Homo sapiens: one gene and its partner. The protein of the gene in region 1 interacts with the protein of each later gene in a pairwise test. Each region holds a gene or a part of one and is shown in the gene's direction. Other genes may lie near its edges. The genes, in order: ZNF420 and CYP4V2.

The links.
Region 2: the proteins of ZNF420 (region 1) and CYP4V2 interact in a two-hybrid assay, tested with the Homo sapiens proteins (one large-scale study listed by BioGRID and IntAct).

What each region holds. Positions count from the first base shown.
Region 1 is NC_000019.10:37,091,859-37,095,688, forward strand, and holds part of ZNF420 (zinc finger protein 420), read left to right. Parts: intron 1-3,830. UniProt on the Homo sapiens protein: May be involved in transcriptional regulation.
Region 2 is NC_000004.12:186,197,996-186,201,825, forward strand, and holds part of CYP4V2 (cytochrome P450 4V2), read left to right. Parts: intron 1-961; coding exon 962-1,088; intron 1,089-3,161; coding exon 3,162-3,347; intron 3,348-3,830. UniProt on the Homo sapiens protein: A cytochrome P450 monooxygenase involved in fatty acid metabolism in the eye.

The sequences.
Region 1 (3,830 bases):
GGAGGTTGCAGTGAGCTGAGATCACATCACTGTACTCCTCCAGCCTGGATGACAGAGCGAGACTCCATCTCAAAAAACAAAAAAAAAAGAACTTGCATTGGACATTGAATGAATATGCTAGAATCATCTTTTATTGTAAAATAGTTGAGGGGGAACCTGTGATTGTCTAAGAAACTTTATTGTTTTCTTCTGTAGTATTTTTATATGAAACAAAATCCGTATCAATTACAACTTTAATAAGTGATTTTCCAACCTACATGATAACTTTATTCCTTGTGCTGGAATAAACTGTCTCTTGCCTCTTCCTTCCTTTCTCCTCTGAAGCCTTTAGGAAGTCAGTGATTAACACATGTCCCTAGAGGACCCAAGTGGTGTGGAAAAAAACCTATGACTTGAGGAGAAAAGCAAGGGTTTTTCACCATGATCTTCCTAAAGACTCTTACCTAATTTCTACTGCGTCCTTTCCCTGTTGGTTTTTATTATCATTCTTCCCACTTTCAAAAGAGGGAATGGTTGGCCGGGCGCGGTCTTGTATGTGCTTGGTAGTTGAATATTACATATTAAGAACTTTGGGCTCGGCTCGGTGGCTCACACCTGTAATCCCAACACTTTGGGAGGCCGAGGAGGGCGGATCACCTGAGGTCGGGAGTTCGAGACCAGCCTGACCAACATGGAGAAACCCCGTCTCTACTAAAAATACAAAAAATTAGCCGAGCATGGTGGCGCATGCCAGTAATCCCAGCTACTCTGGAGGTTGAGGCAGGAGAATCGCTTGAACCTAGGAGGCAGAGGTTGCAGTGAGCCGAGATTGTGCCACTGCACTCCAGCCTGGGCGACAGAGGGAGACTCTGTCTCAAAAAAAAAAAAAAAGTGCAAATTAAAACCACAATGATATAGTTATTTCACATGCTATAAATTGGCAGCTTGACAGTACCAGGCATTCTCAAGATTTGAAGGCAGAAGTGCACTATATCTTGATATTCACAATAGCCAAAAAGTGGGAACAACCCAAATGTCCATCAACTAATGAATGGATAAAATTTGGTATTTTCTTAAAACGAAATATTATTCAGCAATAAAAAGGAATGAAGTTCTGATACATGCTTTAACATGGATGAACCTTGGAAACATGCTATAAAGAAATACCCGAGGCTGGGTAATTTATAATAAAAAGAGATTTACTTAGCTCATGCTTCTGGAGGCTGTACGAGCATAGCACTAGTGTCTGCTTGGCTTCTGGTGAGGTCCAGGAAGCTTTTAGTCATGGTGGAAGGGAGGGGGAGTCGGTGTGTCACTGGCAAGAGAGGGGGCAAGAGAGAGAGGAGGAAATTCAGGCTCTTTTAAACAACCACATCTCGCGTGAACTCATAGCGTAAGAACTCACGACAGAGTCTTGCTCTGTCGCCCAGGCTAGAGTGCAATGGCCCAATCTTGGCTCACTGCAACCTCCTTCTCCTGGGCTCAAGCGATTCTCCTTCCTCAGCCTCCCCAGCAGCTGGGATTACAGGCACCTGCCACCACACCCAGCTAATTTTTGTATTTTTAGTAGAGATGGTATTTCACCTTGTTGGCCAGACTGGTCTCAAACTCCTGACCTCGTGATCCGCCCACCTCCCTCCCAAAGTGCTGAGACTACAGGCGTGAGCCAGTGCACCCGGCCAAGAACTCACTCTTTACCACAAAGATGGCACGAAGCTATTCATGAGGGATCCACCCCCATGATCCAAACACCTCCCACCAAGCCCCACCTCTGACACTGGAGATTACATTCAATGTTAGATTACATCAACATGAGATTTGGAAGGGACAAACATCCAAACTATATCCCATGCCAAGTGAAAGAAGCCAAATACAAACACTGCATATTATATGATTGCATTTATATGAAACGTCCTCAATAGGGAAATCTATACTGACAGAAAGTAGGTTACTGGTTACCCAGCACTGGGGATGGGGAAGAGGTAGAACAGATGGAGAATGGGGAGTGGGGAGATGAGAAGTGACTGCTAATGAACACAGACAGCATTTCTCTTGGGGGTGAAAAAATGTTTAAAAATTAGATTGTTGTGATTGTTGCACATCTCAGTGGGTATACTAAAAGCCACTGAATTGTGCAGAAATAATATGGAAATGGTTGCCAAACTTGTGTGTACTTTAGAAATAGCTACGGTCTTTTAAAAAATTCCACAGCCCAGGCCACACCCCAGACCAATTAAATAATAATTTCTAGGCATGGTACATGAGTATCATATTTTTTGAAATTCTCTAGGTTTTTCAAATGTTTAGCCATGTTTGATAACCACTGCACTGTGGTATTATCTGAGAATTTTTTTTAATTGAATGTTCACTCCATTTAATTTATTACCAATATACTTGGATTTATTTATCCCCTATTTTATGCTTTTTGTTTCCTCTTTTTATCTTACGGGCTTAAAAAACTTTCTCCCTCCTTAATGAGGGTGGATACAATCGTGTTTTATTTTTTGCAACTCCATTTTCCCCCTTGTTTTGTTTGGAAAACGTACAGTATTTATTTATTTTTAAAAGTTATCTTTAAATTTTTATCATGTGTACCTAATTCCTTTTAATGTCAATGGTATTTTATAGTTTTTATTGATTGTAATTGTGTCTGAAAATTATATATTTAATGGACATTATATATTTTGATGGATACTAAAACATATTTATTCAGTCCACATACAATATTTGGTTTGCATATTGCTTTGCAATAAACTTGCTCTATCTCCACCCCTAGGATTTCAAGGCCAGCAAGTTGAAAAACAGACATATAAATAATAGTATCTACTGTGAAATAAATTGGTAACCTTTGTGGCAATTAGTTGAGGTTCTAAGGAGAGATAAGAAATTGACATCTCTATGTCAAATATATATTTTATTGTCACAGAATTCTTATCAGAAGTATACCAGCAATGTATATCTATTATATACTTTATCAACAGTGGCTATTAGCACGTAGAAATATCTTTGTTAAGGCCAGGCGCGGTGGCTCACGCCTGTAATCCCAGCACTTTGGGAGGCTGAGGCGGGCAGATCACGAGGTCAAGAGATCAAGACCATCCTGGCCAACATGATGAAATCCCATCTCTACTAAATATACAAAAATTCGGTAGGTGTGGTGGCACATGCCTGTAATCCCAGCTACTCAGGAGGCTGAGGCAGGAGAATCGCTTGAACCTGGGAGGCGGAGGTTGCAGTGAGCTAAGATCGCGCCACAGCACTCCAGCCTAGTGATAGAGAGAGACTCTGTCTCAAAAAAAAAAAAAAAAAAGAAATATCTTTGTTGATTTGTAGATGAAAAACAGAAGAACATTTCTGCCATTGCCGGTGAATTTAAATACTTTGGGGGTATTTCTGCCTGTTTTGGTACTTTAGTAATTATCATTATTGTTTGTGTCACTTGACAAATACATGCTTAATTTAGTGAAGTCTAAAATTCATGTCTAACTTTCCTTAAGATAATTAAAGGATATTGAAATGCTTTAACTTTGATCTGTTTCTCCAATCTGGTATTGTTGTCTGGTATTTTAGTTCTGTTCTTTTTTTAACCTACAAAATGGGCATTATTTTTGTTTCATAATGGCAATGTTTGCTTGTGGATTTGTTGATGTAATTATCTTTTATTTGTATGCTATTCCTCTTTCATTATACCTTCCTTCTGGGATATTTTATTTATCATGAAATACATTAGGGAAGGCTTATTGGTTTTATTTTTTTCTTTTCTTTTCTTTTCTTTTTTGAGATGGGGTCTCATTCTTGTTGCCCAGGCTGTAGTGCAGTGGCGCAATTTCGGCTCACTGCAACCTCCGCTT
Region 2 (3,830 bases), on another chromosome or scaffold:
TTTCTCATTCTTGTGCTTTCCTTTTGTTGTTATTCTTCTTCCCATATTTTCTGCACCAAGTAGGTATTGTTTTAGTCATCGAAACAGTCAATTTTACTCTAAAATTGCTTGCAATTATTCACCTGTTAAAAGGCAGGGCAAGGACTTGATGAAGTACAGAGAAGTGCATTGAGCTGAGTATATTTAAGTCTCCTGCTCATTTCACTTCATTTTAACCAATATTTATTAGGCATCTGTGATTTTCCAATCACTGCACAGGGTACTGACTGGTTTTGTAGTAGTACACAAAACAGAATAACACAGGAGGCAGGCAACGGACAAAGAAATTCATGAACTGTAATAATTGCTCAGGAAGAAAAGATCAAATTGATACCAGAGAGCAAAACAAGAAAGTGTCCTACAGAGTGAGAGGCCAGGAAAGGTCTTTCTGAAGAACCGGCACCTAAGCTGGTCCTGCAGGAGATCACATAGGGGTCTTTCTGCTCTATGGCTGGACATGAAAGGGAGGTGCTGGGACAGCCAAGTGACAGATGGGTACTTAGAGAGCCCTCGCTTGTAGAAGAGGGCAGCCAGTTGTCTTCTGTCACTCCAGAGGAGTGGTCAGACCAATGATGGACCTTAAAAAGAGGCCGATTTCATCTCAAACCCTGGTGCAGAGGTCCTAGGCAGAGTGGGAAACTTGCCCTGGAGAAGCAGAAGCAGAGACCAAATGGCTATCTAGTAAGGATGTTTTATAATGAATCCTTCATTCCTTTAAAGAGCCCATTATTTTCTGAGGCTTCATGGGATGCGTAATAGCCCATGCCTTCACTGCTAAGCATAAAACATGGAGCTCTTAGTAGCCTCTAAGACAATCATCGTCATTCCCACGATTGCCTTCATCAAGGCCAGGTACTAAAGAAGTGCTCAAGAAATACACATTTCTGATACAACAGCTGATGTATTTTTATCCCATTTATAGAATGAGTGAGATGATATTTCGAAGAATAAAGATGCCCTGGCTTTGGCTTGATCTCTGGTACCTTATGTTTAAAGAAGGATGGGAACACAAAAAGAGCCTTCAGATCCTACATACTTTTACCAACAGTGTAAGTCCCTGACTTTTACAATTGTGGTAAAATAGACATAACATAAAATTTCCCTTTATAACCATTTTAACTGTACAGTTTGGTGGTATTAAGTGCATTCACGATGTTGTGCAACCATCCCCACCGTTCATTTCCAGAACTTTTGGTAAGTCCATGATGTTGATGTTTTGTTAACATACCCGGTGTAGGACTATGGAGCCTATGTCTCAGAAAATAAAACTTGAATAATAATAGAAAACAATTTTTCATATAAAAAATTATACTTAAGTATAAAAATGTATACTTCAATTATGTAGTCAACAAATATTAATTAAGTACTCGCTAAGTGCTAACCACCATACCAAATGTTGGAAATGTAGTAATGAGTAGGACATGTGTATATGGTCCGTACCTGAAAGGAAGTTATTCTAGTAGGAGAGGTGATCTATCAACACATAATTACAACATGTGATATGAGCTGTGAACACTTATGAACAAACAGGGTGCTGTGTAAAAGAATAAAGGAACAAAGATCTATGTATAGGAGTTTTCTGGAAAATGTTTGGATTCGGCAGTCATTTTCAAAGGCAGAGGGCATTGATAGCAGTATCTTAACATGGAAAACATTAAAACTAACTAGATATTAGTATTCTATTTCCAATTCAAAAATAACCAGAAGATAGTGATGTTGTTTTGAATATAGGATGTCAATCTTTGTGTTAATAATGTGTTTTGAAAAAGCAAGACTTAATTGAAAATATACATCAAATTATAATTTCAGTGTATTAAAAAACTGCCTGTTTAAATATGTCCTTTCTTTGCTGTAAATTTTGGTTAAAATCTATTGGAGTTATGTCCTTGTGGTGAAGTACACCCTACCCCCAAGAGAGCAAATGATGAATAAATCAGTAGATGTTCCATGAATGCAATGTTGGCTGAGCTGGCCACAGTGGAGTGTGATCACCTGGTTATAGGAGAATAGCCAGCAGGTTATATTTCATAATTATATTTTTCCTTAAATTTTGTGCATTAATATTTAATAGCAATAATTAAATGAATTCCAGACTGAATAGACAATTTTATTCATTGAATAAACATTGAGAATTGCCTACTGAGGCCTGGGCTCTAGGAATTCCACCAAGAATAAAAAAAGACATGGTGTTTTGCCCTCAAATTGCTTAGAATCTATTCAGGCCACTTAGTAGCAGGTTTGGTCAATTACCTGGTAGGAAAAGAAGGTTGAAATGTACAACCAAATTAAGTGTATTGGCCTTCATTCTTTTATCCATCCAAGAAATATCTAGTGAGTATTTGTTAAATGCCAAGCAGTGCTCTAGAGGTTGGAAATGTATCAATGAACAAAGACATGCACAAGCATGGCAGTGTTTGAGTTGTAAGAGAAAGATGCTAAATAATAAGTATAACGTAAGTATAATATCACATTATAATAATAAGTATGACAGAAGTATCACATAATGTCAGGTGGCAAGGGAAATGGAGAAAAAGCATTGTTAGGAGGCGTCGCAGTGCTAGGGACAGGGGTAGCAGGGATGAGGGAGGTCTCTCTGATCGTGTGACAATGAGCAGAGATCTGGAAGAAGGGAGGGGGCAGCCGTGCAGGCCTCTGAGGAAAGCATTTCAGGCAGCAGAAATCGCAAGCATAGAGGGTGAATTCACTAATCTGCTTGCTGTTTCTTTTCTCCTCTACAACATGTAATTAAGTCTATAATTAGACTGTTGTATAATGATTGCATTCACTCTACCACTTAAACTTTTTCTCATTAGCGCAATCCAATCTCTAGGGTACTATCTAGTAGACTATGATTCTATTCTTGTGTTGGAAAGACTGCAAAAATAGCACTTGAAAATTAGGAATTTGCGTGACATTAAATTTGTTTTTAAAAGTTTCACCAGATAATCCCCAAAATATTAATGAGGCTTTACTGTATTTTCACAAGAGCCTATGTTGTCGAAATGTTGAAATAGGCTTAGAAAAATAAATGAAAGAAACTAGCATATTTTATAAGAAAATGTGTTAACTAGGGTGCATCCAAGTCCAAACAGAAGCATGTGATTATCATTCAAATCATACAGGTCATCGCTGAACGGGCCAATGAAATGAACGCCAATGAAGACTGTAGAGGTGATGGCAGGGGCTCTGCCCCCTCCAAAAATAAACGCAGGGCCTTTCTTGACTTGCTTTTAAGTGTGACTGATGACGAAGGGAACAGGCTAAGTCATGAAGATATTCGAGAAGAAGTTGACACCTTCATGTTTGAGGTATTGTATATTGTTAGGTTCAGATATCATTAAACAAATTTCAGTTATTGTTAGAATCTTTAGCATTATTTTTTAAAACAATCAAATTTTAAAGTAGTTTAACTAAAGAAGATTCATTATATTTTAATTAGAAATTACAAAATTTAAGAAACTGATTAAGTACCAGCTCAACTTCTTCAGAAAACGATTTTGACTAGTGCTGGGCACAGCAGTAGACACATTTGTTTTTCCTCAAGAAAACCTAAGATTTGTCAGAGTTTTCCCAAGCAGAAGAGCAGCCAGAGATTGCTCTCAGTTCTCCATGTGGCTTCAGGCTTCCTTCTAACCTCCCAGACATGCAAGTCCACTTCCTCACCACCTGCTTTCTGAGGTTCCAGCAGATGAGCACTTAGCTGCTGCCATGAGCTACTCTACCTAGAGGACAGTTAAGAGCCCTCCAACAGAGAATCAGCCAGTTCATGATTCTAAAAAGATCTCTGATCT